Regions from separate parts of the Homo sapiens genome. Here all the other regions are linked to region 7. Evidence: fine-mapped expression QTL. A gene starts in region 7. Each other region holds a variant in brackets. All regions are shown on one strand. Distances are between the middles of the regions. Region 1 overlaps MPV17L-BMERB1 (MPV17L-BMERB1 readthrough). Region 2 has its middle 55 kb from the start of MIR3180-4. Region 3 has its middle 62 kb from the start of MIR3180-4. Region 4 overlaps MARF1 (meiosis regulator and mRNA stability factor 1). Region 5 overlaps RRN3 (RNA polymerase I transcription factor RRN3). Region 6 holds the start of MIR1972-1 (microRNA 1972-1). Region 7 holds the start of PDXDC1 (pyridoxal dependent decarboxylase domain containing 1).

What was found.
Region 1: its variant is fine-mapped to the expression of PDXDC1 in whole blood (TOPMed, PIP 0.92).
Region 2: its variant is fine-mapped to the expression of PDXDC1 in whole blood (INTERVAL, PIP 0.90).
Region 3: its variant is fine-mapped to the expression of PDXDC1 in atrial appendage (GTEx, PIP 0.98).
Region 4: its variant is fine-mapped to the expression of PDXDC1 in whole blood (INTERVAL, PIP 0.95).
Region 5: its variant is fine-mapped to the expression of PDXDC1 in whole blood (INTERVAL, PIP above 0.99).
Region 6: its variant is fine-mapped to the expression of PDXDC1 in whole blood (TOPMed, PIP 0.99).

The regions. Positions count from the first base shown.
Region 1 is chr16:15,447,803-15,451,869 of GRCh38, reverse strand. All of the region lies in intron 1 of MPV17L-BMERB1 (MPV17L-BMERB1 readthrough), which reads right to left. All of the region lies in intron 1 of BMERB1 (bMERB domain containing 1), which reads right to left. Among named protein-coding and RNA genes, the nearest start is that of BMERB1, 15 kb to the right of the region's middle. The variant T/G (reference allele first, on the strand shown) is at 1,794.
Region 2 is chr16:15,207,530-15,211,596 of GRCh38, reverse strand. No RefSeq gene overlaps it. Among named protein-coding and RNA genes, the nearest start is that of MIR3180-4, 55 kb to the right of the region's middle. The variant A/T (reference allele first, on the strand shown) is at 2,406.
Region 3 is chr16:15,215,331-15,219,397 of GRCh38, reverse strand. No RefSeq gene overlaps it. Among named protein-coding and RNA genes, the nearest start is that of MIR3180-4, 62 kb to the right of the region's middle. The variant C/T (reference allele first, on the strand shown) is at 1,600.
Region 4 is chr16:15,606,001-15,610,067 of GRCh38, reverse strand. MARF1 (meiosis regulator and mRNA stability factor 1) reads left to right here. Exons shown (of 27, transcript NM_014647.4): 20 at 343-545; 21 at 1,550-1,777. Among named protein-coding and RNA genes, the nearest start is that of MIR6506, 3.1 kb to the left of the region's middle. The variant C/TC (reference allele first, on the strand shown) is at 1,808.
Region 5 is chr16:15,069,900-15,073,966 of GRCh38, reverse strand. RRN3 (RNA polymerase I transcription factor RRN3) reads left to right here. Exons shown (of 18, transcript NM_018427.5): 12 at 887-1,017; 13 at 2,716-2,846; 14 at 3,713-3,897. It also overlaps a transcript of PDXDC1 not described here. Among named protein-coding and RNA genes, the nearest start is that of NTAN1, 16 kb to the right of the region's middle. The variant G/TG (reference allele first, on the strand shown) is at 1,722.
Region 6 is chr16:15,010,114-15,014,180 of GRCh38, reverse strand. The region is part of intron 8 of PDXDC1 (pyridoxal dependent decarboxylase domain containing 1); the gene reads right to left. It overlaps MIR1972-1 (microRNA 1972-1), which reads left to right and starts at 3,784; the gene lies at 3,784-3,860. RefSeq lists a silencer at 1,066-1,171. The variant G/A (reference allele first, on the strand shown) is at 2,231.
Region 7 is chr16:14,973,475-14,977,541 of GRCh38, reverse strand. PDXDC1 (pyridoxal dependent decarboxylase domain containing 1) reads right to left here and starts at 2,516. Exons shown (of 23, transcript NM_015027.4): 1 at 2,322-2,516. The coding sequence starts at 2,342. RefSeq lists an enhancer at 2,435-3,198 and a silencer at 3,356-3,650.

The sequences.
Region 1 (4,067 bases), 470 kb before region 7:
ATGCAGTGGCTCATGCCTCTAATCCCAGCACTTTGGGAGGCTGAGGCAGGAGGCTCACTTGAGCCCAGGAGTCCAAGACCAGTCTGGGCACTAAAGTAAGACCCTGTCTCTACAAAAAAAAAAAAAAAAAAAAAAATTAGTTAGCTAGCTGGGTGTGGTGACACCCACCTGTAGTCCCAGCTTCTCAGGAGACTGAGGTGGGAGAATCGCTTAAGCCCAGGAATTCAAGGCTTCAGTGAGCCATGATTGCACCACTGCACTCTGGCCTCGGTAACAGAGTGAGCTCCTGTCTCAAAAAAAAAAAAAAAAAAAAAAAAGAAATACTAAGAGTGACCCAGTATGTACATACACACATAGGCATAAGTAAAACAAACGTTGGACAAAATAGGCCGGGCATGGTGGCTCATGCCTGTAATCTCAGCACTTTGGGAGGCTGAGATGGGTGGATCACTTGAGGTGAGGAGTTTGAGACCAGCTTGGTCAATACAGTGAAACCCCATCTCTACTAAAAATTAGCTGGGCATAGTGGCATGCACCTGTGGTCCCAGCTACTCAAGAGGCTGAGGCAGGAGAATCGTTTGAACACGGAAGGTAGGGACTGCAGTAGCAGAGATCACACCACTGTACTCCAGCCTGGGTGAGACTCGCTCCAGAGAGGGAGACTCTGTCTCAGAAAACGAACAAACAAAACAAACAAACGAAAGGTTGCACGGAAATAAGACTTAACTTTAGCAGCATAGATGCAGCTTTCTATTTCCTATTTCCTTCTATTTCATTTTTTTTATGCTGGTTACGCCCCCTTAAACTAATTTAAAGTTTCATGCATGAGGCTTTAAATCTCACACTTGGAAAACCTCTGAGTTTTCCAAAGTTCATTGCTGTTGCTTGCAATAATCCTGTCTCTTGTGTGTGAAAACCCTAAAATGATCATCGATATGATGGAACGTGGAACCTCACAAACTTTTTCTCTTGGGCAATGCAGCAGCATGACAAGCTCTGGCAGCAAAAAGCCACAAATGGTGGTTGGAAGAGCCAAGCATAGCATCGAAGCCAAGCAGCCAGAACTTTCTCCTCCCACAGCAAGCAAAAAGCCAGCTATGGCCGGGCGTGGTGGGTCATGCCTGTAATCCCAGCACTTTGGGAGGCTGAGGCAGATGAATCCTGTGAACCCAGGAGTTCGAGATCAGCCTCAACAACATGGTAAAACCCCATCTCTACTAAAAATACAACAATTAGCCAGGCATGGTGGCTTGTGCCTGTAATCCCGGCTACTCGGGAGGCTGAGGCAGGAGGATTGCTTGAGCCCAGGAGGTGGAGGCTGCAGTGAGCCAAGATCATGCCACTGAACTCCAGCCTGAACAATAGAGCAAGACTCTGTTTCAAAAAAAAAGCCAGCTGTGATGTGAATACCTTTTACATGCCTATTATTTGTCTAGGGTAGGGATCCATGAGCCTTCAGACCAAACCCAGACCAATGCCAGTTTCTCTATGGCCCTTGAGCTAAGGATGACTTCTACATTTTCTTTTCCTTTTTTTTCTTTTTTGAGATGACCTCTACATTTTCAAATGGCTGTGGGAAAACATCAAAAGAATAATAATATTTTATGACATGGGAAAGTTATATAAAATTCAAATTTCAGTGCTCACCAATCAAGCTGAAACAAAACATAGCCACATCCATTCACTTAGGTGCCTGTCTATGGCAGCTTTAGGCTACAGCTTTGGAGTACGGTGGTAGAGCTGAGTGGTCGCAACAGGGGCCATATGACCTGCACACCCTAAAATAGTATCTA[T/G]CCTTGTACAGAAAAAGTGTATCAGGGCTGGGTGTGATGACACACACCTGTAATCCCAGCACTTTGGGAGGTCAAGGCAGGAAGATCACTTGAGGCCAGGAGTTCAAGACCAGCCTGGGCAACATAGTGAGACCCCATCTCTACCAAAAAAAAAAAAATTTTAAAGAAAACAAAAAAGAAAAATTTGCCCATCTCTAGTCTAAATACTAGATGGAGATTAAAAATAAAGTAGGCTGGGTGCAGTGGTTCATGCCTGTAATCCCAGCACTTTGGGAGGCCGAGATGGGTGGATCACCTGAAGTCAGGAGTTCGAGACCAGTCTGACCAATATGGTGAAAGCTTGTCTCTAGTAAAAATACAAAAATTAGCCAGGTGTGTTGGTGTGCACCTGTAGTCCCAGCTACTCAGCAGGCTGAGGCAGGAGAATCGCTTGAACCTGGGAGGCAGAGGTTGCATTGAGCTGAGATCACACCATTGCACTCCAGCATGGGCGACAGAGCGAGACTCCCTCTCTTAAAAAAAAAAAATTAAAGAAAAAGAAAAAAAATTCAACTTTTATTTTAGACTAAGGAGGTACATGTGCAGGTTTGTTACAAGGGTGTATTTCATGATGCTGAGATCTGGGGTCTGGGTGAAACCATCAGCCAGATAATGAGCAAAGTACCTAACAGGTAGTGTTTCAACTCTTCCCTCCCTCCTTCCTCCCTCTTGTAGTCCCCAGTGTCTGCTGTTCCCACCTTTGTGTCCATTTGTACCCAATGTTTAGCTTCTACTTATAAGTGAGAACACGCATTAGTTCACTTAGGATAATGGCCTCCAGCTGCATCCATGTTGCTGCAAAGACCATAGTTTTACTTTTTTTGCTAGCTGGTGGTATTCCACGGTATATATGTACCATATTTTCTTTATCCAATCCACTGTCAATAGGCACCTAGGTTGATTCCACATCTTTGCTATTGCAGGTAGTGCTAAACGGACCAGTTATTTAACGGGGCCTTATCGTTTTTTTGTTTCTGTTGTTTCAGAAAGACGTGACTTACTCTGAAATGTTATACCTCACCTATGCTGGCATCTAAGAATCAAAAATTTAAGGTGTGTAAAGTACCTAGCCCAGCCTATACCCATCACAACACTGTCACTTGGCTGCCGGTTCCCATTCATGGTACCTATTCCTGTTACTTTGTATCTGATCTGAAAATCTCACATCTTTCCCTCAAAGCAGAAGGCGAGGATGCTAATCTCACGGCAGCATCAGGAACAACTCTTTGTTTTTTCAGTTTTTTTTGAGACAGATTCTTGCTCTGTCGCCTAGGCTTGAATGCAGTAGTGCGATGTCAGCTCACTGCAACCTCTGCCTCCCAGGTTCAAGCGATTCTCATGCCTCAGCCTCCTGAGTAGCTGGAATTACAGGCTTGCACCACCATGCCCAGCTAATTTTTATATTTTTGGTAGATGGGATTTCGCCACGTTTCCCAGGCTGGTCTTGAACCCCTGAACTCAAGTGACCCACCCGCGTGGGCCTCCCAAAGTGCTGCAAATACAGGCGTAAGCCACTGCGCCTGGATGCTGATATTTTTAACTGGTTAAGACCTCAGGCTAATGACAGGGTTTTTCCTTGCCTATCACATTGAGAGCACTTAGAAGACCTTCTTTCCTTCTGAGACATAATAACTACTATGGGTTTCTCCCTTCAAGATTTCTGATCAGCCCCTTCTTTCAAACCCACTGCTCCTGCAGACTCCAGCCCTGCCATGGATATTTGGACATACAGCCCTCATCATGGGATAATTCCAAACCCTCCTAGCTGACCTTCTTATCCCCAGGGCCCCTGACTTTGCATCCAGTTGGTCACCATTGCCAGACAAGCCTTCCTAAAATGCTACTTCCGGCCAGGCGCAGTGGCTCATGTCTGTAATCCCAGCGCGTTGGCAGGCCAAGGCAGGCAGATCACCTGAGGTCAGGAGTTTGAGACCAGCCTGGCCAACAGGGTGAAACCCCATCTCTACTAAAAGTACAAAAATTAGCTGGGCATGGTGGCGGGTACCTGTAATTCCGGCTACTCAGGAGGCTGAGGCAGGACAATCGCTTGAACCCAGGAGGTGGAGGTTGAAGTGAGCCGTGATCACGCCACTGCACTCTAGCCTGGGAGACAACAGCAAGACTCTGTCTCAAAAATAAATAAATAAATAAATGCTACTTCTTTCCCTCCATCCCTTGTCCTCCAATGGCCCCATATTGCCAGTCCTTTTTTAATCCACCAAAGTCTAGTGGTCC
Region 2 (4,067 bases), 230 kb before region 7:
AATCTTGGCCCAGAGGACTTCTCTCCATCTGGATGAGCATTGAGATCAAGGGTGAGCTAGTCCCAAGGTTAATTGGATGAACCGATCTTTTCTTTTGTTGGCTTGTGGAGGTCAATTAGTAATGTGGATGATTGGATTCAGTTAAATGCCTTCAATGAACTAGGTCTATAGGGGACAGTGATTGGTTCCCAAATGGGGTGAGGGACCCATTTGGACTAAACGTTTCACCTTGCCCTGGCTTTGGTGGCTTCAAAACCAAATGAATGGCCCTTTAAGCCATTAAGCAGTCGCAAAGAAGCAGGTCTACCAGCACTCCTGTTCATTGGTTTGTTTTTATTTATTTGAGCATTTTATTTTTATTTATTTATTTATTTATTTTTGAGATGGAGAAAGACTCCGTCTCAAAAAAAAAAAACAACAACAAAATAAAAAAAAACCCACAAAGAAGGCATTCCCTGTTGCTAAAATATAAAATTATTTATTTATTTGTATTTTTTTATTTGAGCATTTTATTCATTTGAGCAGTTTATTTTCCCCAATTTCATCCCTTGTAGTGGAAAAAGCACAGTCTAGAGTCAGGAAGACATAGCTATGACTTCTAACCCTGTCTTTTGCTATATGCATGAAGTTGGGCAATGATATTAGTGTTTCTGAGCCTTAATTTCCTTGCCTGAAAAATGGGGCCTCCGGGCACAGTGACTCACGCCTGTAATCTTAGCACTTTGGGAGGCCGAGGCGGGAGGACCGCTTGAGCCCAGGAGTTCGAGAGCAGACTGGGCAACATGGTGAAACCCTGTCCCTACAAAAAATACAAAGATTAGCCGGGTGTGGTGGCATGGACCTGTCATCCCAGCTACTCGGGAGGCTGAGAGGTGGGAGGACGGCTTGAGCCTGGGAGGTTGAGGCTGCAGTGAGTTGTGATTGCACTACTACATTCCAGCCTGGGCAATTAAAAATAAAATGGAGCCGATAGAATTTACCTTGCCGTAGTGCTTATTGTGGATATGAAATGGAATAACATTAATATTTAAGGTGTTTATTGCTGGGCCTGGTACTAAGAATGTGAATCTCTTTTCCTGTAGAGAATGGAGGCTGTACCCTCTAGATAATTTGTAGCTGGTTTGTAGCTGGTTGTTTATTTCATTGCCCTAGTGATCTGGTATTTTCAGACAAATAAGATCTGATATTGAAATGATGCCCATATTGTGTCTCTGTGTTCTAAAAGTAATCGGAAGTTGTCCCAGGAATTGAGGTGTTATAACTACTTGCAAACCATTGCATCTTAACTGAGTCCAAGCAAATTTCACTAGAGCTCCATACATGTACTTCCATATTCTTTATGATACAGAATCACATGAGCTGGGTCCTGGTTTTGATCTCAACCTCATTTCCCTGAAAACAAACAAACAAACAAACAAACAAACCATAAGCAGTACAAAATGAGTACTGATGAGAGTGACATTCACAGCCACACCTTGATCCTGCAGTTGAGGAAATACAGTCGTTACAGGAGCTTATGCTGAGTCTTCTGTGAGTCTCAGATATTTTGGATGCTGGCGACTTCTCACAGGTTGATGTCCAAGCCACTGCAAGGCTCATGTAATGGGCAGCTCCAAGACTGAAGTAAGAACAAGTTTCAGTAAGATAGTATGGGAAGAGTAGGTTGCCCTTTCAGCATGAACCCTTCAGGATGTTTTGCTAGGAATTTGCAATGCCAGAGTAAAAGGTGTAGAAGGAGTATATAGAAATAAGACATGCCCTAGGCCGGGCACGGTGGCTCAAACCTGTAATCCCAGCACTTTGAGAGACCGAGGCAGGCAGATCATGATGTCAGGAGATCGAGACCATCCTGGCTAACACAGTGAAACCCCATCTCTACTAAAAATACAAAAAATTAGCCAGGAGTGGTGGTGGGCACCTGTAATCCCAGCTACTCAGGAGGCTGAGGCAGGAGAATGGCTGAACCTGGGAGGCGGAGCTTGCAATGAGCCGAGATTGTACCACTGCACTCCAGCCTGGGCGACAGAGGAAGAGTCCGTCTCAAAAACAAACAAACAAAAAAACAAACAACAGAAGAACAAACAACAAAATAAAAAAACCTCCACAAAGAAATAAGGCATTCCCTGTTGCTAAAATATAAAATTAAAATGTAATGGATCAGAGTAGAGAAATGCAGGGTTGCTCTAACAACAACAACAAAAACGATGCGTAGTGATAAATGCGTACTATGTGTCAGATGTTTTTCTTGGCTGGAGAATTCATCTAAGTTTCAGAATATATTCTAATGAAGGGGGGATAGACAATAAAAAAGTGTATATGATTTTGTATATTAGGAAATGATAATTACCAATGTGAAAATACAGGAAGGAAAGAGGATAGAGAGTGTGAGGAGTGGAGTGGATGCT[A/T]TAATTTCAAGTAGGTAATTATGGAAGGTTTCAATGAGTAAATATAATAGCACTTGAACAAGACATTCTCTCATTTTCTGAGAAGTGTTCTAGGAAGAGAGAACCCCACAGTACCTAGGCACTAAGGTATGAGCATTCCTGGAATGATCAAATAAGAACAAAAAGGGTCGGCCGGGCGTGGTGGCTCACGCCTGTAATTCCAGCACTTTGGGAGGCCAAGGCGGGCGGATCACGAGGTCAGGAGATCACGACCATCCTGGCTAACACGGTGAAACCCTGTCTCTACTAAAAAAATACAAAAAATTAGCCGGGCGTGGTGGCGGACACCTGTAGTCCCAGCTACTCGGGAGGCTGAGGCAGGAGAATGGCGTGAACCCGGGAGGCGGAACTTGCAGTGAGCCGAGATTGTGCCACTGCACTCCAGCCTGGGTAACAGAGTGACTCCGTCTCAAAGAAAAAAAAAAAAGAACAAAAAAGATCAATGCAGCAAATTCAGGCAATAATAGGGTGGTGGGAAATGAAGTCAGAGAGTTACAAGACAGATGGTTCCTGAGACAACCAACTTGAATTTATCCAATTGGAGAGTTTATTGTCATGCTCATCCTTCTTATGATTGTTTTCCTTGTTCTAACATCTTGCTGGGCACTTTGATGTGTATATTACCTGCAGGATCTTCTCAATCCTCACAACTACCTTTTGAGGCAGATAGTATATTATTCCCGTTGCACATAGAAGCAAACCAAGGCTCAGAGAGGTTAAGTAACTTTATAAAGCCACAGAGGACAGTGGCAAAGGCCCAGTGCCTTTTCTATCAGGCTATCTTGCTTCCATTTTCAAAGCAGTTTTGTGTCCCACCTTGTATCCTTTGCTCACAGCCTTGTCAATAAGAGCCTCCAGACAGCTCTTATTAGTCCTATTAATTGCTTCTTCCTAATTCCCGGGAATGGAATTGAATGGTAAAAATTGAATGGGTAGACACAATTTCTGAGACTCTTTTCTATGGAGCTATGTTTGTGTCCCCCACACAAATTCATGTGTTGAAACCCTAACCTCCAACGGGATGATATCTCACTGGGATGATATTAGGTAGGGCCTTTGGGAGGTAATTAAATCACAAGGGTGGAGCCCTTATCAATGGGATTAGTGTCCCTATAAGAAGAGAAAGAGGCTGGTGCTCTCTCCCTCTCTGCCAAGTGAGGACACAGCAAGAAAGTTGCTGTCTACACACCGTAAAATGAACCCTCACTGGAACCAACCATGCTGGCACCCTGATCTTGGACTTCCAGCTTCCAAAGCTCCGAGAAAGAAACTTCTGTTGTTTAAGCCCCAGGCTGTGGTATTTTGTTATAGGAGCCTGAACTGACGAAGGCACTCCAATCTATTTTGCACAATATTTCCTTCTTGGGTTGTGTCCGGGGACCTTGTTCATGGCACTGACCTTCCACATGTGCTTGGTGATTCTTGTGAAATCCTTTTCCATAACCCAGTTCTCCCATCAACATCACTCCCTTTGTCTCTCTCTTTTTGATCATTGCCTTCTACATATTAATTTTTGTTTTCATGTTTCTCCTCTCTCCCCTGGTAGTACACAGAGGCCGGGCTTGGCCAGTGTTCATTGCTGCATATGGAAGCTTGCTTTCTCATCTTTCAAAAAGCTACTGT
Region 3 (4,067 bases), 240 kb before region 7:
AAATAATAATAAAAACAAAAAATTTAAGTATTTGTTGCCTAGCTGGGGTTTGCATGGGCATGAGTCAGGAAAGTGGGCTGCGTGCACAAAATGGGAGGTACCTTTTCTCCTCCAAGGCGGCCCCAGCTCCAGCTATGGGGAGATGTTATGTTGCCTATTTTTCTTTTCCACTTGTTTTTTTAAAAAGTGAGAGATCAGGATTTTTTATGTACAATTTCCCAATGTTTAACAGTTGCCAACTAAGTTTTTTTTTTGTTTTTTTTAAGAAGGTCACTATGAGCCTTAGTCCTGTGGGAGCATCTTGGCGCCTGCTTTTTGTCTGGTTTGGGCAGCACCCTGAGGAGGGGGAAGTGGGTGGGGTGCCAAGATTGGGTATGGCGGGGTGTCAGGTCAGTTTGGAAGAGTCTTGGCCTGCTGGTTGGAGAGGAGGCCTGGCTGGATTTTATGCTGTTCAAATGAGAAACAGACCCATTCTGAGAAATTGAAAGTTGTGCCATCTTTATTTCCTATTTTCCACTCTGTGATTTTTTTTTTTTTTTTTTTTTAAGACAGAGTCTCACTCTTGTTGCCCAGGCTGGAGTGCAGTGGTGCGATCTCAGCTCACTGCAACCTCTGCTTCCCAGGTTCAAGCGATTCTCCTGCCACAGTCTCCCAAGTAGCTGGGATTACAGGCATGCACCACCATGCCTGGCTAATTTTTTTTAATTTAGTAGAGACAGGGTTTCATCATGTTGGTCAGGCTGGTCTCAAACTCCTGACCTCAGGTGATTCACCCGCCTCAGCCTCCCAAAGTGTTGGGATTACAGGCGTAAGCCACCATGCCCAGCCTCTGTGATTAAAGTCAAAATGTGGGAATTATTTTCATGCACATTGTAGATATAGACACTAAATGTAATTCCATCTCCCGAACCCTCTATCCGCCTTTTTTTGTTGCTGTTGTTGGAGTCCAAATGCCTAAAAATTGTGCAGAGCTTAATGCCTCATATAGGTTTCTTTCTCCTCGGTCTTTCTTTCTTTCTTCTTCTTCTTTTTTTGTTTTTAACTTTTATTTTTAGTTCAGGAGTACATGTGAAGGTTTGTTCCATAGGTAAACTTGTGTCATGGGGGTTTGTTGTTCAGATTATTTCATCATCCAGGTGTTAAACCTAGTACCCATTAGTTATTTTTCCTGAGTCTTCCTCCTCCCACCCTCCACCCTTTGATAGGCCCCAGTGTGTGTTGTTCCCCTCTATGTATTCTCATCGTTTAGCTCCCGCTTCTAAGTGAGAACATGCAGTATTTGGTTTTCTGTTCCTGTGTTAGTTTGCTAAGGACAGTGGTCTCCAGCTCCATCTATGTCCCCACAAAGGATGTGAGCTCGTTCTTTCTTAATGGCTGCACAGTATTCCATGGTGTATATATAACACTTTTTTTTTTTAATCCAGTCTATCATTGGTAGGCATTTAGGTTGGGTCTTTATATCTTGTCTCATATATATTTTTCATTTTTCTCACTTTGTCTGTTAATTGCACTTTCCAATTTTGTTATGTTATGTGCATTTTTGGAAGCTGCCTCAAGAACATCCTGGAACGAATAAAAATGCTTGTGTAGCAGGACATT[C/T]TGGCTGACTGATCTGGAGGTCGAGATGCTTTGACTGTGGACAATACTTCCCTCTCCTCTGCCTGCTTGCATGCTCCGAGGCTTTTATTTTTAATGGAAACAGGGAGATAAAGGGAATGGAATAGGATCTGCTTTCTATTTGGCTCTCTGTGCTGGGTTTGAGGTCCTATGATTAGAGGGACAGACTGACAGCTGTTTTTCAGGGGACACTTGGTGACATCCTAAGCAAGGCATGATGGCCAGGAGTTCACATTGCCCTAGAGACAAGCAGAGTGGCTTCAAGGTCTGGGTGGCAATTGATGGCCAAACTCTGACTCCAGGTCTCTGCAGGGAAGTTGCTGCTTGTCATTTTCAGGTAGCTCAACAGACTGGAAGCTTTGCGGGGATCTGGAATAATCTGCTTTTTAGAAGCAGCAATGAAGCTTCCCTCAGCTTCTTTGTGAACGAATGTGTGCCAAGCAGACTGGAAAGTGCTCTGTGAACTCTGATTGCTAAATGCAGGTGGGTACATCACAGAGACCCATTGTGTTGACCAGAGACCACTTTGAGGGGGCTCATTCCTGCAAACCATCCAGATAAATGGGGGCACATGTCACCATCATTTTTGTATGAGAGAAAGTAGGAATGGTTTGTCAAGATCTGCCAAAATTAAAAACACGCAACAATTCCACTTCTTGGAATCCATCCTATGGAAATATTCATATATGTGCAGAATAATATATGTTCAAGGTGTTCATTGCAGTATGTTTTGTGATAGAGAAAATGTGGGATAACCTAAATATTCATCAACTAGGGAGTGGCTAAATTATGGTATATCCGTACTACTGGGCGCCATGTAGCTGTTAAAAAGATAAGATAAATTGATAAGTGGCAACATGGAAATATCTCCCAAGCACACCAACTTTACATAAACTATGTGTGTGCATCTATATACGTGTGTGTATCTATCTATCTATCTGTCTGTCTATCTACCTATCTATCTATCTATATTTGACTCTTGAACAATACAGATGTGAACTGCTTCAAAACCCCTGTGTAGATGAAGGGTTACTTTTCCTGTCCTTGAGTTCTGCAAGGTTGACTGCAGGTCTCGGGTAGGCACAGATTTTGGTACACCTGGGGGTCCTGGAACCAGTCCCCTGTGTATACCGAGGGATGGCTGTGTATAGTTCATATATATATATATAGTTATAGTTTATAGTCTATATATACTCTATATAACTACATATATACTATGTACTATATGTAACTATATATTTATATATTTAATATATACATTTATATATTTACATGTGTTTACATATAGTACATGTTCATTTATATATTTACTAAATATATAAATATAGTATATATTTAGTACTAAATATGTACTATATGTAACTATAAATATTTATGTATACTAAATATACTAAATATGTATTTAGTAAATTTAGTATATACTGAATATATATTTAGTAAATTTAGTATATACTAAATACAGTATCTATAGTATATATAGTATTATATATAGTATATCGTATATACACACATATATAGTATATATTATATATACACATACTATCTATACATATATAGTATATTTAGTGCCAAATATATATTATATGTAATTATATCAATATTTATATATTATTATATATAAATATATATGGTATATATAGTATTTATGTATACTAGATATGTAAATACTTAGTATATATAGTATATTTAGTACTAAATATGTACTATATGTAACTATAGTTACATACATATAGTACATATTTAGTTTTAGTCCTAAATGTTTAGTACGTTAAATATTAAGTGTATAAAACTATATATAGTATATATACATATTTAATATATAGTTAATGGAATATAATATGAAATATAAATTTTCCATATTTTATATGGTTATATATAACTGTATATATACATAACTACATACATATACATGCAGTTGTGTATTTATATAGTGTGTGTGTGTGTGTGTGTGTGTGTGTGTGTGTGTGTGACATTGTGTATGTACAATCAATATCCCCCTCCCCACGGGAAGGCATCTGGGTTTGTAGACTGGCTGGTGACTAACGGATTATGGAAAGTTGTTGCCTGTGGTCAGGGTCGTGCTCAAAATGTTTGAGCACCGGGAGGGCATGAGCACAGATTCACCAGAGTGGATGCTGGAGCGGGCCCCGCAGGCCCTTGCTCGGCCAGGTGTTAAGCCTGGATAATGAGAGTGAGGGGCATGTGAGGTAGCAGGGGAGGTTGCTGAGCGACTGGCGTGGGAGAGTGTCCCTGTTTTGAACAACTGGTGTGGCCGTACTGAAAGCCCTAGTGAAATATCCGTCTTGCCGTTGGCAGTCTTATTTTAAAATTCTAATAAGAAAGTGGTGGGCTGTCTACACCCTGATTTGCAAGTGGCAAATTGGGAAGTGGGCTCCATAAATAGAAGGCCTTTGGGAGTTTATCCTGAACCTTGGACTTCCTGCTCCAGG
Region 4 (4,067 bases), 630 kb before region 7:
TAAGTACAGGGACCTGGGTGTGTGTCATGTTAATAGATATGGGGCAGGGGCTAGAAAATTGTTTCTAGCTTATAAGATGACATTGTTTCTAGCTTATAAGATGAATATATATGAATTTCATAATATAATAATATCATAACTTCCTGGTGTTCTGCCCTGGAACATGTTTGAGAACCACTTGCAAAGAGGGAAGAGTATATGTGTTTGTTTTAGGTTGTGTGTGTTTGGAAGGCAAGGATGATATCGTTTATAAATTCCCAAAAGGATTTACTCTAGTGTGGATGTTGAACACAAATGGGTAGAAAAAAACTGTGATTTTATGTTTTTTGGTTTTTTTAAAAGAACGCACTCAGGATGAAATAGAAAGGACAAAACAGTTCTCCAAGGATGTCGTTGATTTGCTGCGTCACCAACCCCATTTCCGGATGCCCTTTAATAAATTTATCCCTTCTTACCATCACCACTTTGGCCGGCAGTGCAAACTTGCGTACTATGGGTTTACCAAACTACTTGAACTTTTTGAAGCCATACCTGATACTTTACAAGTGAGTGAAGAAATTCTAATTTTATAAAGTATTTTTCTGAACAACGTATAGGAAATACTTTTTCACGTTCCAGACCTGTTTTTCTGGGAAGTAGGGAGTTACGAAAGAGGATGAAAATCTAAGCTATTCCAGTCAGAGAAGCCATATTCCTGACTCATTAGTATTTTTAGATAAATATGGCTTTTTCCTTCAATAAAGGATTATTCAAACTTGTTTTGGGGGTAATTATTGAAAAAAAGATTCAGTAGGTTTTCTTTTTTTTGTTTGTTTGTTTTTGTTTTTTGAGACGGAGTTTCTTTCTTGTCGCCCAGGCTGGAGTGCAATGGCGCAATCTTGGCTCACTGCAACCTCCGCCTGCGGGTTCAAGCAGTTCACTTGCCTCAACCTCCCGAGTAGCTGGGGATTACAGGTGCCCGCCACCATGCCCAGCTAATTTTTCTATTTTTAGTAGAGATGGTGTTTCACCACGTTGGCCAGGCTGGTCTTGAGCTCCTGACCTCAGTTGATCCGCCTGTCTCAGCCTCCCAGAGTGCTGGGATTACAGGCGTGAGCCACCACACCTGCTGATTTCTTACACTGAATATTTGTTCATTACTTTTATACTTTTAAAATCCTTCGTGTTGAAGGTAGGTCTGAGTACATGAGGTAACATCAGTGCTAAGCTGTTCGCTGTTGCTAAGTTAAACCAAATTTCTGTTGTTGATTTTATTTTCTTTTTTTACTACTGAAGTGCTTTTTAAAAATTGTTTTATTGTGGCACAATACACATAACATAGAACTTACCTTCGTAACTATCTTTATATCTCCTGTCCAGTAGTGGTCAGCACATTCACATTGTTATGCAACCGATCTTCTGAACTTTTTCATCTTACACAACTGAAACTTTATACCCATTCAGTAACGCTGACTTGTTTTTTCATTACTAGCTGCATACTTTTTTTGCTATTCTGTAAACACCCGTGATTTGTTTATTTTCCCTTTCCTCCCCCCGTGTGTTTTCAAAGGTATTGGAATGTGGAGAAGAAAAGATCCTTACTCTGACAGAGGTGGAGCGGTTCAAAGCTCTAGCTGCCCAGTTTGTTAAACTCCTTCGGTCCCAAAAAGATAACTGCCTTATGATGACAGATCTCCTTACAGAATATGCTAAAACTTTTGGTTATACATTTCGTCTCCAAGACTATGATGTCAGTTCCATTTCGGCTTTAACTCAGAAACTCTGCCATGTCGTGAAGGTAAATGTTTTTTTTTTTTTTTTTTTTTTT[C/TC]CCTCATGGGATAAAACTCACAGTGACCTAATTCTCATTAGGACGTTTGCGTGTGCTGTAGCGTTTCTTTATTTACACCTTGAACTACTTAACTGTCACAGCATTATGACTCGTTTTGTGTCATTAGTGCTTATTAGGTAATAGAAGCCTTGGTTTGGAAGTTGAGAGTTTTGGTCTTCCTCTTGTGTGTTTCTGAATGGCCTTGCCAAAGCAATGCCTTTGTGAACTGATGAGGTCACTCTTCACCCCAGGGTTCGGTCATGAGGTGCAGCTGCCTCAGCACTGCTGGCCTGAGCTTGACTCCTTCCAGTGTGAGTTTTGCCTGTGACGTTCTTGGGAGCCCGTAATCACACAGTGTCCTCTCCCTCCACATTCTCACCCACTTAGGAGTAGGCTTAGGAGCAAGCGAGGGTGCAGAGTGGCCTTTGTCACTGGCAGAGCTGTAGTAGAGAGGGCAGCTCGTGCTGTTTGCTGTCCTGGACTGCACTTGACCCTTCCTGTCCTAGGCAGAGCAGCTGCCAGTTTTCGGCCTCCTCCCCCACAGGACCAGAAGAAGTCACTGCCAGGAGGAAGGAATGGAAAGGGAAGCATGAAGGACGGCACCCTCAGTTACAGGCCCATTACTAGCTGCACACATTTCTGTGTCATTTAATTCCGTAAACAGCCAGAACGGGTTCACTCTCCCTTTCCTTCCCACTGTGGGGTTTTTTTGGAGTTGGAGTCTTGCTCTGTGGCCCAGGCTAGAGTGCAGTGGTGCGATCTTGGCTCACTGCAACCTCCGCCTCCCAGGTTCAAGAGATTCTTCTTCCTCAGCCTCCTGGGTAGCTGGGATTACAGGCGCCCGCCACTACGCCCAGCTAGTTTTTGTATTTTTAGTAGAGACAGGGCTTCACCGTGTTGGCCAGGCTGATCTCGAACTCCTGGCCTCAGGTAATCCGCCCACCTCAGCCTCCCAGAGTGCTGGGATTACAGGCATGAGCCACTGCACCCAGCCCCCACTGTTTTTTAATGTATTGGACTGCAGCTAAGAAGACGTTCTTACCTTGGCAGAGGTAGGAACGCTCAGAGCTCTCCTTAGGTACTGATTGGTTGGAGGAGGAGGTGAGAGAGCAGGAAGCACAACCAGGAGAGCCGAACATCCCTGAGCCAAGGCAGAGGAATGGCCAGCAGCATCGCAGGAGGGCTGGTCAGAGAGGGACTGCCTGACTTCCAGGTTTAGCTCAGTGGGAAGAGTCGGTGCTGCTGGCCAGGTCAGTGGCAGTGTTGGTTGTGTAGACAGAAGCCACCTTGGAGTGTGGTGAGGAGTGAGGAGAGGTGAGAAAATGGCCCAGGTCATCTGGACAGCATCCTGGTTTGTCTGCTTGTGAAGATGGAGGGCTGTGGCAGCAGCTAGAGGCTGTGGGGCTGAGGGAGCAAGGGAGGATTTGGGCTGTTGGTTTTCCTACCTGGAAAAACTTGAGCATGTCTGAAAGCCATTGATGTGGATCTGTCTAGAGAGAGAAGATGAACATACAAGGGCGAGAAGGGGTAAGACAGGAGGGCCTTGAGGTGTGGGAGACTAGGAAACAGCACACAGAGGAAGGAGGAAGTATACAGGGCAATAGGCTGGGGGCAGGCATGGGCAGGTCTGATGTTTATCATCAGGAATAGAAGGGAGTCCTCTTCCAAGAGTGGTTTTCCACTAGAGAGAGGGACTGATCTCTGCTTAGAGAGAGAGAGGAGAGGCAGGGCTCAGGACTTAGGAGTGGGGAGAAGGTCCACAGTTGTCATGGTGAGTGGAGAGTGGCTTGATCAGGATGTCACGTGGAGTGCAGGGGTATCGAGAGCTCACTGCAAGTTGGCACCGTAGACTCTGGGAGAGCAGCAGTTGGGGTGTGGCTATGCAGGTGTCGGTTCAGGGAAAGCAGGTGGTTGGATTCAAGGTGGGAGTTTACCGATGGGCGTCAGGAAAAGGCATGGGATGAGCGAATTTAAATATTGACAAGAATGTCAGTGCCAGCATGACAAAAGAGGAGAGTGAAGCAAGGGAGTGGGCTGGCAAATTGGGAGCAGATAGGAGGCAGTGATGCTGCTGAGGTTTGAGAAGGGGCGGAGTTGAGCGGGTAGAGTCTCTTTCTGCACTCCCACCCCAACAGCAGCTCCAGACTTGCTTTTGCAAGTGGGATGCTCAGGAGGTTTGAATGATTTATGTTGGATGGGGTAATGACAGGTTTGCACTGTGACCCTGGAGATGGGTGTCTGCAGTGAAATTGAACACAGG
Region 5 (4,067 bases), 96 kb before region 7:
TAATCTGCCCTTTACATGGATGCTGAAGATAAACATTTTCTCATATCATTGCCTGTTTTAAAATAATTGTTATTGAATCCCAGCACTTAGGCCAAGGTGGGAGGATCACTGAGGCCAGGAGTTCAAGACTAACTATCCTGGGCAACATAACAAGACCCCATCTCTAAAAAAAAAAGTCGTAATAATAAATGTTGTTGGTCACATGGGTTTAACTGTCTTTTACTGTTTTCACCATGATAAGTAACAGTTATAATGAACATACTTGTGCCTATATATTCAGCTGTTTACTAACAGTAAAATGATCGGATTAGAGGTCTTTTGCTACACGAATGATAGAATTGCTCTTCAGAAGGGTTTGCATTTCTGACCTTGCCACAGTGTGTGAGGTGAGGGCCTGCTTCCTTGCAGGTGTTAGATTATTATATTCAGAGGAAAATCTGTGTAAACTAAAAGTAGCATTTTGTTTTAATGGTATTTTAATGGATAATGTCTGTCTTTCTTTTTTTTTTAAATAGCCACGGTCTTACTCTAACCCAGGCTGGAATGCAGTCGCACAAACATGGCTTACTGCAGCCTTGACCTCCTGGGCTCAAGCGGTTCATCCGCCTCAGCCTCCCATGTAGCTGGGATCACAGGCGTGCCACCATGCCTGGCTAATTTTTTGATTTTTTGTAGAGACAGAGCTTCCCTGTGTTCCCCAGGCTGCCCTTGAACTCCCGGGCTCCCTCTCACTTTGGCCTCCCAAAGTGCTGGGATTGCAGGCAGGAGCCACTGTGCTTGGCTGGATAATGTTGTTTTTTAATGGTGTTGTGTTTATAAAAAATATGGCAGATGAAACTTGAAAATATGTCTTTATAAAAACTGAGATGCCAGATTTTCTCCATAGGTAAGGTTGATAACGGCAAAACAAAGGATCTATATCGCGACCTGATAAACATCTTTGACAAACTCCTGTTGCCCACCCATGCCTCCTGCCATGTACAGTTTTTCATGTTTTACCTCTGTAGTTTCAAATTGGTGAGTAAGAATGTGATTAACATTATCTTAGCTTACTTTGTTTTTGCCCAAAAATTTTCCCTAAAAACTGGGGTGGACGGAGACCATGAAGTAAATAATTCTTTTCTTTGAGCTTACTTGCTAGTCTGCTTAATAAAATCGCATTCTCCTTTCTTTTTTTGTTTTCTTTTCCTTTCTTTTTTGAGACACAGTCTCGCTCTGCTGCCCACTGCTGCAACCTCCACCTCTTGGGCTCAACGGACTCTCAGTCCTTACCCTCTCGATAGCTGGGACCACAGGTTACCATGCCTGGCTAATTTTTGTATTTTTAGAAGAGGTGGGGTTTCGCCACGTTGGCCATACTGGTCTTGAACTCCTGACCACAAGTGATCTGCCCGCCTCCTGCCCCGCAAAGCGTTGGGATTACAGGTGTGAACAACTGTGCCTGGCCCACGTTCCCTTCTCAGTACACTTGGAGAGAAAACAGATTGCTGCCTGCCAGCCCAGCTAGGTGCTCCGAAAATGTCATCCTGCCTTTTGGTCACTAGGTGGTGCTCTTCCCTTAAGCCTTTCTCTATTAAAATCTCATATGGGGTAATTAACTGTATTTCCTTTATTCTTTCCAAGGGTTGAGTTGTAACTAGCCCAAACCAACTTATTAATCTAGAATTTTAAAAACTTTAGGCTTTGTCTTTTCTTCTTCTTCTTCTTTTTTTTTTTTTTTT[G/TG]GTGGGGGAAAGAATGTAGAAGGCTTTTCCTTCTCTGCAACGATTTTGTGGCTTCCTAGAGATCAGGAGAGTGTTGGTCATGGGAAAGAAGGTTGAATTCAGTCTGCCCACATGGGTGTGCCTAGCTTTAGAACAGCGCTATTTAGGAGAAGTTGGAAGTTACACCCTTTGGTGAGAAGCTGTGTCTGTTTTTTTCCATGATTGGCATAATTAACTCAAATACCAGCTGTGCGTTAGTCCGTATTTCTGTTCGTGGTTGAGTTCAGTGTGTCCAGAGACCGGAAGGTGCTTTGCACTCACAGGAGTGCCCATGTGGAGCTCCATGGGATGTGAATTATTGTTGGTCACCAGTTCTGGCTGACATTGGAATCACTTGAAGAGTTTTTGTAATATGTGGATTCCAAAGCCCTGTCACAAACCTATTGAATTTGTACCTCCCAGGTTGAATTTTTTGTTGTTTTTTGTTTGTTTGTTTTTTGAGATGGAGTCTCACTCTGTCACCCAGGCTGGAGTGTAGTGGCATGATCTCAGCTCACTGCAACCTCTGCCTCCTGGGTTCAAGCGATTCTCCTGCCTCAGCCTCCCAAGTAGCTGGGATTACAGGCACCTGCCACCATGCCTGGCTAATTTTTGTATTTTTAGTAGAGACAGGGTTTCTCCATGTTGGCCAGGCTGGTCTCGAGCTCCTGACCTTGGGTGATCCACCCGCCTCGGCCTCCCAAAGTGCTGGGATTACAGGCGTGAGCCACTGTGCCTGGCCCCGGGTTGATTGTGATGCTTAGCTAGGTTTGGGATCCACTGGATTATTTAACACCCGAGGTGCCTTTTGTTTTTAATGATATTCTCTCAATGTGTTTTAAAAATGAAGCCCATGAGATAGTTATGAGATAGTAGAACTTTTCCCTACATTGGTGAAGTAAAAATCTTGGGATTTTGATAGCCAGATTATCTTAGGCATTAAAAAAGATCACACCGACGCCCTCTCTTTTTATAGGGATTCGCAGAGGCATTTTTGGAACATCTCTGGAAAAAATTGCAGGACCCAAGTAATCCTGCCATCATCAGGCAGGCTGCTGGAAATTATATTGGAAGCTTTTTGGCAAGAGCTAAATTTATTCCTCTTATGTAAGTAGCCTAATTTTCCGAATACTTTTTAATATCATGCTTTAAAAAGAGTATAGCATTGTCTCAAGTCAGAAATATCTCCCATTTTTTTTGGCATGTTTTTAAAGTGAATAAAATCCCTACTCTGTGCAAGATGTTTATATTTCTAAGTGGTGATTTTAGAATAAAGTGTCTCCTTTTTTATATATAAAACCCTGTATGTAAGGCTTTTGTCATCTCTTTTGGTTGCACTTAAAGATCCATTTGTTTTGTGGATAGAGGACAGTGTTGTATACTGTTTTGATTCTTTTTGTAGGTTTGTCATTTTTTCATTTGCATTCCAAATCTATTGTATCTGTTAAAGCTGAAGAAAAACCCTTTTAAAGGTAATAGACCTATCTAGGAGGCCAGTTTCTTCCAGTGGCCCATAAAGATACCTTTGGACAAGGATGCTGTTGAAACCCTTCCCCAACCACAAAATTATTCACCATAGGACTTGACTAGGATGCATCAGGGAATACTGAAGTCCACCAGACTGTCTTTCTCTTGAGAGGTGTTGGTGAACGTGTCCTGTTTGGCCAATCACCTTAAGAGGGGTGCCTTTGAGATGGTTAGGAGAACCTGCTTTCCATCCCTTGGGACGTTCTTAGGGGCTCACCTGTTCCTAGAAGGTCAGAGCTACTCTGCCTTGTAATTGGAAGGTTGTCTTCCTACGCACCCATCCTTATCCTTCCTTTCTTTGCTTTTCCTCTGTACCCATGGGTATTATTTAAAGAAACCTATGAACTTACTTAGCATGGTTTGTAATGAAAGGCAGTTGTGTGTTTTTATGTTATTCTGGTTTTTTTATGATGTGTAAAGTTGACTTGAATTTTTCTTTTCTCTAGTACTGTAAAATCATGCCTAGATCTTTTGGTTAACTGGCTGCACATATACCTTAATAACCAGGATTCGGGAACAAAGGCATTCTGCGATGTTGCTCTCCATGGACCATTTTACTCAGCCTGCCAAGCTGTGTTCTACACCTTTGTTTTTAGACACAAGCAGCTTTTGAGCGGAAACCTGAAAGAAGGTCAGTGTTGTGGGAGTGCTGGACTGGATTTTCCTTGTGTTCTTGTCACCCTTCAGAATGGTGATTCATTACTTTTTTGAGATTTTTATAAAAACTGGATTCAGAAAACTGCATGTGCACTCAAACTTTTAATAATAATTTCAAGCAGCTCATAGGCCCCTACAAACCCC
Region 6 (4,067 bases), 37 kb before region 7:
GGCCGGAGTGCAGCAGCGCAATCTCGGCTCACTGCAATCTCAGCCTCCTGGGTTCAAGCTATTCTCCTGCCTCGGCCTCCTAAGTAGCTGGGATTACAGGTGCCTGCCACCACAACCAGCTAATTTTTATATTTTTAGTAGAGACAGGGTTTCGCCATTTTGGCCAGGCTGGTCTTGAACTCCTGACCTCAGGTGATCTTCCCGCCTTGGCCTCTCAAAGTGCTGGAATTACATGCATGAGCCACCGCACCCGGCCTAAATAAGCAGTTTTATTGTAGTATGATTTTTTTTTTTTTTTTTTTTTTTGAGACAGAGACCCTTTCTGTCGCCCAGGCTACAGTGCGGTGGTGCGATCTTGGCTCACTGCAACCTCCACCTCCCAGGTTCAAGCGATTTTCCTGCCTCAGCCTCCCAAGTAGCTGGGACTACAGGTGCACACCACCACACCTGGCTAATTTTTGCATTTTTAGTAGAGATGGGGTTTTACCACATTGGTCAGGCTGGTCTTGAACTCCTGACCTTGTGATCTGCCTGCCTCAGCCTCCCAAAGTGCTGGGACTACAGGCATGAGCTCTCATGCTCGGCCTATTGTAGTATGATTTACATGCAACAAAACTCACTCATGTAAGTATACGGTCCAATGAGTTTTGACAAATATATAGAGCATGTAACCATCAACACAATCAAGATTCAGAATACTTCCATCAACCCCCAAATCCCATCAACCCCAATATAATTACCCTTTCCCTGACTCCTCACTGGCCCTGGAAAATCCTGATCTGCTTCTGTCACTGTAGTTTTTTGCCTTTTTTTTTTTTTTTCTTTTTTTTTTGAGATAGGGTCTCACTCTGTCGCCCAGGCTGAAGTGCAGTAGCACAATCTCGGCTCATTGCAAGCTCCGCCTCCCGGGTTCAAGCCATTCTCCTGCCTCAGCCTCTCAAGTAGCTGGGACTACAGGTGCCCACCACCACACCTGGCAAGTTTTATTTATTTACTTATTTATTTTTTACAGAAACAGAGTCTCACTCTGTCACCAAGGCTGGAGTGCAGTGGTGCGATCTCACCTCACTGCAACCTCTGCCTCCCGAGTTCATGCCATTCTCCTGCCTCGGCCTCCCAAGTAGCTAGGACTACAGGTGCCCACCACCACACCCAGCTATTTTTTTGTATTTTTAGTGGAAACGGGGTTTCACCATGTTAGCCAGGATGTCTTGATCTCCTGACCTCGTAATCTGCCCGCCTCGGCCTCCCAAAGTGCTGGGATTACAGGCTTGAGTCACTGTGCCTGGCCTGACATTATATTTTAAAGAATTTTTTTTTTTTTTTTTTAAGAAAGGATCTGGCTCTGTCACCCAGGCTGGGGTATGGTAGCACAATCTTGGCTCACTGCAACCTCTCTCTCCTGGGTTCAAGCCAACCTCCCACCAAAGCCTCTGGAGTAGCTGGGACTACAGGTACACACCACCACACCTGGCTAATGTTTAGTATTTTTTGTAGAGATTTCCTAGGGGTTTCGCCATGTTGCCCAGGCTGGTCTCGAACACCTGAGGGCAATTGATCTCGCAGTCTCAGCCTTCCCAAGTGTTGGGATTACAAGTGTGAGCCACCTGTAATTTCTCCATTCTAACAGACATGTAGTAATGTCTCATGGTGATCTTAATTTGCATTTCACTAATGACTAATGATGTTAAACATCTTTTCAAGTGCTATACATTTTCATTTTCTTTGATGAAGTATCTGCTCAAATCTGTTGTTCATTTAAAAAATTGTATTGTGGGCCGGGCACAGTGGCTCACACCTGTAATCCCAGCACTTTGGGAGGCCAAGGCAGGCAGATCACCTAAGGTCAGGAGTTCAAGACCAGCCTGGCCAACACGGTGAAACTCCATCTCCACTAAAAATACAAAAAACTAGCTAGGTGTGGTGGCACATGCCTGTAATCCCAGGTACTCGGGAGGCTAAGGCAGAAGAATCACTGGAACCCGGGAGGCAGAGGTTGCAGTGAGCCAAGATCGCACCACTGCACTCTAGTCTGGGCAACAGAATGAGACTCCATCTCCAAAAAAAAAAAAAATTGTATTGCTTGTGTCCTTATTGAGTTGTAACAGTTCTTTATATATTTTAGATACAAGTTCTTTGTCAAACAAATGTTTTGTAGCTTCTGGGGAAAAGAATGAAAAAGAAATTTTAAAAGAAGACAGGACTGGGACAGTGGCTGGCTGAGTGTGGC[G/A]GCTCACGCCTGTAATCCCATCACTTTGGGAGGCCAAGGCAGGTGGACCACCTGAGGTCAGGAGTTTGAGACCAGCCTGGCCAACATGGCGAAATCTCGTCTCTACTAAAAATACAAAAATTAGCCCGGCACGGTGGCGTGCGCCTGTAATCCCAGCTACTCGGGAGGCTGAGGCAGGCGAATCGCTTGAACCTGGGAGGCGGAGGTTGCAGTGAGCCAAGGTCGCACCACTGCACTCCAGCCTGGGCAGCACAGCAAAACTCCATCTCAAAAACATAAAAAATAAAAATAGAAAAAGACAAAAAAAAAAAAAAAAAAAGAAAAAAATGTTTTGCAAATATTTCTCCCAGTCTGTAACTTGCCTTTCATCTTCTTAATAGGGGCTTTCAAACAGCTAATGCTTTTAATTTTTGATAAAGTACAATTTATGGTTCACATATTTTGTATCCTAAGAAATGTAACCTAAGGTCACAAAGATCTCCTGTATTTTCTTTGAGACATTTTATTGTCTTAGATCTATGCTTAGGTTGATGAACCATTTATAGTTAATATTTATATATACAGAGAATAAGATAAGGGTTAAGATTCAGTTTTTTTCCATATGGATATCCAAGCTCTAAGACCACTGATGGAAAAAGATGGTCCTTTCTCCCTCGAATTACTCAGGCATCTGTAAAAACCTGAAGTGTCCATATACTTCACATGAGTCTATTTCTGAATTCTCTATTTTCTTTGGTTAATCTCACACAGTCTTACTTGCTACTTTACAGAAGTCTTGAAGTATGACAAGGTAAGTCTTCCAATTTTGTTCTTTTTCAAAATCCCTTGGGCTGTTCCTAGATCCCTTGTATTTCTATATAAACTTTAGAATTAGCTCATCAAGTTCTATTAAGAAATTGTAGCCTGCTGAGATTTTAAGATGGATCAAGTTGAATCTACAGATTAGTTTGGGAAGAACTGACTTAATACTTAGTCTTCCAACCCGTGTGTATGGCATATCGTTCTTGGGTCTTCTTGAATTTCTCTCAGTAACATTCTTAGTTCTCAATGTACAGATCTTGCATATATTTTGTTAAATTTATCCATAAATTTTTCATCTTTTTTGATCCTATTATAAATGACATTTAAAATTCAATTTCCAATTCTTCTTTGCTAGTATGTAAAAATCCAGAAAATGGTTTAGATTTGATCATTAGTTCCAGTAGCTTTTCTTTAGTTTTCTATCTATACAATCATGCCTGCAAACAAAGTTTTATTTCTTCCTTTCTAATCTGTCAGTTATTTTTTTTGCCTTATTGCACTGTCTTAGATTTCAAGTATGATGCTGAATGAGATAAATGGAGCAGCAAGTGGTAGTTGCTCTGCCGCCTATAAGGTAGATATTTAAGTGTGACATCTTATGAATTTTCTTGTTTAATTTTTACAACAATCTTACAACGTCAGTACAATTATTTTTATTTATTTATTGAGATGGGGTCTTGCTATGTTACCCAGACTGGTATTGAACTTCTGAGCTTAAGCCAACATCTTGCTTGTCTCCTGAGTAGAGGGACTATAGGCATGTGCCACCACACCTGGCTTAAATGTGTCATTTAAAAATTCAGGCCAGGCACAGTGGCTCATGCCTGTAATCCCAGCAATTTGGGAGGCTGAGGCAGGCGGATCACCTGAGGTCAGGAGTTCGAGACCAGCCTGGCCAACATAGTGAAACCCTGTCTCTACTAAAAATACAAGAAATTAGCCAGATGTGGTGGCATGCACCTGTAATCCCAGCAATTCAGGAGGTTGAGGCAGGAGAAACACTTGAACCCGGGAGGCAGAGATTGCAGTGAGGTGA
Region 7 (4,067 bases):
CCGTGGGAGGCTGAGGCTGAAGGATCACAAGGTCAGGCGTTTGAGACCATCCTGACCAACGTGGTGAAACCCCATCTCTACTGGGAATACAAAAATTAGTCGGGTGTGGTGTCACACGCCTGTAGTCACAGCTGCTCGGGAGGCTGAGGCAGGAGAATCACTTGAATCCGGGAGGCGGAGGTTGCAGGGATCCGAGATCGCCTCACTGCACTCCAGCCTGGGCAAGAGACCGAGACTCCCTCTCAAAAAAAAAAAAAAAAAAAAAAAAAAAAGTAAGTCCCATAGTTCTGAAAAACTTACACTCAGAATTTTCACATTGACCTAAGGCAGAAACCTCCAGCCCACACGTTCTGAATTCCTAAAAGATCACTACAATTTTTGTGAATGCTCCAATATTAAACACACTGGAATTTCAGTCCCTCTTGCGATCCTCATTGAGAGAGTTTAAGATCTTTTATCATCAATTAACACTTAGGGAGCAACTACTGTAACCTACTGATCAAATGCCAGAAAAGTAATATTTAAAGCAGGATTCTGACCCACCCTGCAGATTTTCCTATAAAGGCTAATTATTCCTGGAGGAAAGATCACCCCAGTTCTTCAGGATTCCAATTACAATCACATGAAGCCCACCCACCTTCTTAGGAAATTGATAACACCACTTTGCATCGTTTTGTACTCAACTGCTGGTGTTATAAACATGATCTTGACCAGGATTTCTCAGCCTCAACACTGCTGACATTTTGGGCCAGAGAATTCTCCAGCGTGGGGGGCTGTCCTGTGCAACGTAGGATGTTTAGAGGCGTCCCTGGCCTCTACCCACTAGGTACCGGCAGCACCTCCCTGCCCCCATTGTGACAATCAAAACTATGTCCAGAGATAGCCAAATGTCTCCTGGGGAAATAAATTGCCCCCTGCTTTAAGAACCACTCATCTGGACAAACTCAAAGTACCAAAAGGTAGACACCCTGCTAATCAGACGACCGGAAAGACTTTATTCCCAGCCAGGAAAACACGTAACATTCACCCCAGAGATGGCACAAGAAAACCATATTATCTTTTTCTTGTCTTCCACCCAATTTATGCTAAGCAACCCAGGAGTAGGCTATACCACTGTGAGCACATGAAGACATCTGGCCCAACCTTTACAATTATTGCCTTCAACTCTCCAGTGACAAGTGAACAAAATCTACAGCAGCTGCTGCCTTGAAAAAAGACAAAATATATTATTCCTACCAGCTCAAAATTAAAATGTAGCCGTCTTAAAACACGAGCATTGCTCCTGAATGCCACATGCATGAAAAACCGGGTATGCACTGGATTGGACAAGCAGACTCCCAAGCTGGAACAGACAGAAGGGCTTTGAGGGAGGGCAGAATGTCAGGTACCGAAAGCAGGAATCCGTGAAGAAACCCAAACTGGTTTCCATTTACAAGCCCTAACACTGGGACAATGAGAATCCGTTTCACATGGTAGAGCAGTCAGCCTGGTACACCACGCTGCCGTTCCCCCAAGGGGAAACCAGAGGTAGGCTCTGTTACCAGTGGATTTCGAGTTGACTCGGGGATCCCTCCTCGCCACTGGAATGGGGGAGCCAGGAAGTTGTGGAGCAGCTGCGATCCCCAAAACTCAATTCGCAATCTACGCAACACCCACCCCTTTCTGGAACTCAGAGGTTCTCGCCCGGTGATCGCAGGCTCAGCATCAGAATCACCTGCGTGGGGCGGAGTGGGAGCGGGGCGGTGGCGGTTAAACACGCAGTTCCCGGTCCCGCCCCCAGAGGTTCTGACCCCGGGACTGAACCTCCGCATTTTACCAAAGGCCCCAGGTGATTCCCACTCAGGCTGAAGTTGGAAAACCACTGCTTTGGCAATTTTCATTCCTAACTCGGAGACCAAGAAAAACCTACAGGTTTGCAGCTGGCTCTGAAATAACTGCGGCTTCTTTCCGGGAGCATCTGGGGCCGCCAACGGAGAGCTCCCGGTCCTCCGAAAGGGCCAGCCGAGCTCAGGCCGGCCACTCGCGGAACCTCGGCAGGGCCCAAGGTCGGCCCCGCGGTCCCAGTCCTGGGCTCCGGGCCCGTCGCGGCCCCCACCGAACCCCGCCCAGCCTCTTCGGCCCACGGGGACCCAAGAGACACCCGGCCCCGTGACGCGCCCGGGCCCCAGCCGCCCTCCCGGCGAGGCCTCCTCAGGCAGGGCCTGTCAGCCCGCGTCCCCCTGTCCGGGTCACAATGGCAGCTCGCGACTGGGAAACAGTTGCCTCGGAAGCGGGAGCCCCGGGCCGCAGCACCGTCCCCATCGCCCCCTCCCGGCACGGACCTTCTCCAGGGACGCGTCCATGGCTGAGGCGGCCGGTGGTGGCCTGGCGGTCCCGGGCTCTACTTCCTCCTCCCGCGCCCCGCAGCTCCTTCCACGCTGGCAGCGCTGACGTCCCCCGCGCCCGCGGCCGGCGGGGCGGAGAAGAGGAGGAGCTGCCAGGCGGCGCCGCGGGCTGCCGAACCTGATGGTTGAGAGGCGGCGGGGCGGGGCCCCGTAGCGCTGGGCGGAGCCCTCTGGGATTCCGTACCTGGGCGCCACGCCGGCCCTCCCTAACGTGCGCAGGTGAAGGGGGGAGGATGCCCGGTGGATTGTTCACCAAACTCTTTCCAGCAGCCTGTTGCAATCATCAAGGTAGAAGTATAATAATCACAAAGTACTATTCATGGAGTGAAAGGCTGGAAATACTAGTGACGCACCTCACTTCCGGGCCCAGGCTTCCAAGTCTCCCGCCTCACCTCCCGCCGGCATCCCTCGAGAATGGAACAGGCCATTCGCCAAGGAGGCGGTGAGCGAGTGGGCAACCTTGCGCATGCGCAGGACTCGCAGCGTCCTCGGCGCCCGGGGACTTGGGGGTTTTGGGGTTGGGGGCTGCTTAGTGAACGCTGTTCAGAGAAGGCACTGATCTAAGCTGAGGTGTTGTCTCAGACCTTACCGCCGAATTCTAGACGGAAAAAATTGTTGTAACAACCGGTCCAGCCTCTTTCATGTCACAATTATCACTTGTCAGGTAATGGGTAGTAGTAATAATGATAATATTAATACATCAGCTGCTGTTCTTCCATTTTCCTATTTCAGCAGCTCTAGGAGATCATTATCCCCATTTCGCAGTGCCGATCTAGGTAGGATTCAGACCCAAGCCCCATGAGTCCACATACTGCTTCCACTCCTACTTTACTTTAAATGTTTTAAAAAGTTAATTTTTTATTAATTTTTTTATCTTGTTAACCGATGAACTGAAGAGAAAAAAAATTAAAATCTCATTTTAATAGAGAAGGTAGGGGTGTCTCACTATGTTACCCAAGCTGGCTTCAAACTCCTGGCCTCAGGCGATCTTCCCGTCTCAGCTTCCCCAAGTGCTGGGATTACAGGCATGAGCTACCACGCCCGGCCACTTTTGCAATTTTACTGCAATGTGTTTCGAACGAATGGGGAGGGCGTACATTTGCTTAGTAGATTCCTCCCACCTTAATGTGGGAAACTGATATAGACTACCACAGTGGCAATCAATGGAACACTTCACCTCTGCGATGACGCTACAACCACAATCTTACTCCTTTTCTCTCCTGTTTTATACTCTTCGTCCCGAAATCTGTGTAAACAGGGTCACATTTTCAGCGCAGTAACTCCATGTTTTGAGCTATCTACGTTGTATTTGGTAAATTGCCTGGTTATGTTAATAAAATTATTTTCTACCAAAAAACCCTTGTGTGCTGGTTTAGACTGTACTGTGGGGATTATTCTGACTCTCTAAAGAGCTTTCCAAACAGAAGGAAAGATAGATTTATGTCTTTCAAGAATTGAAGATTGAATGTACCCCTGCTTGAGCAAAACAAGTCACTTTTCCAACGTGTTATGAAATTTTTCAAACGTAGAAAAGTTTAAACAGTTGTACAGTGAACAACCATATACCCACTACCTAGATTCTACAGTTAATTTTCCCTATATTTGCTTTAATCACATATGCATCCATATATCCATCCATCGATATATGTTAGTACATTTCACCTCTGAGCACCTCAGCATGGG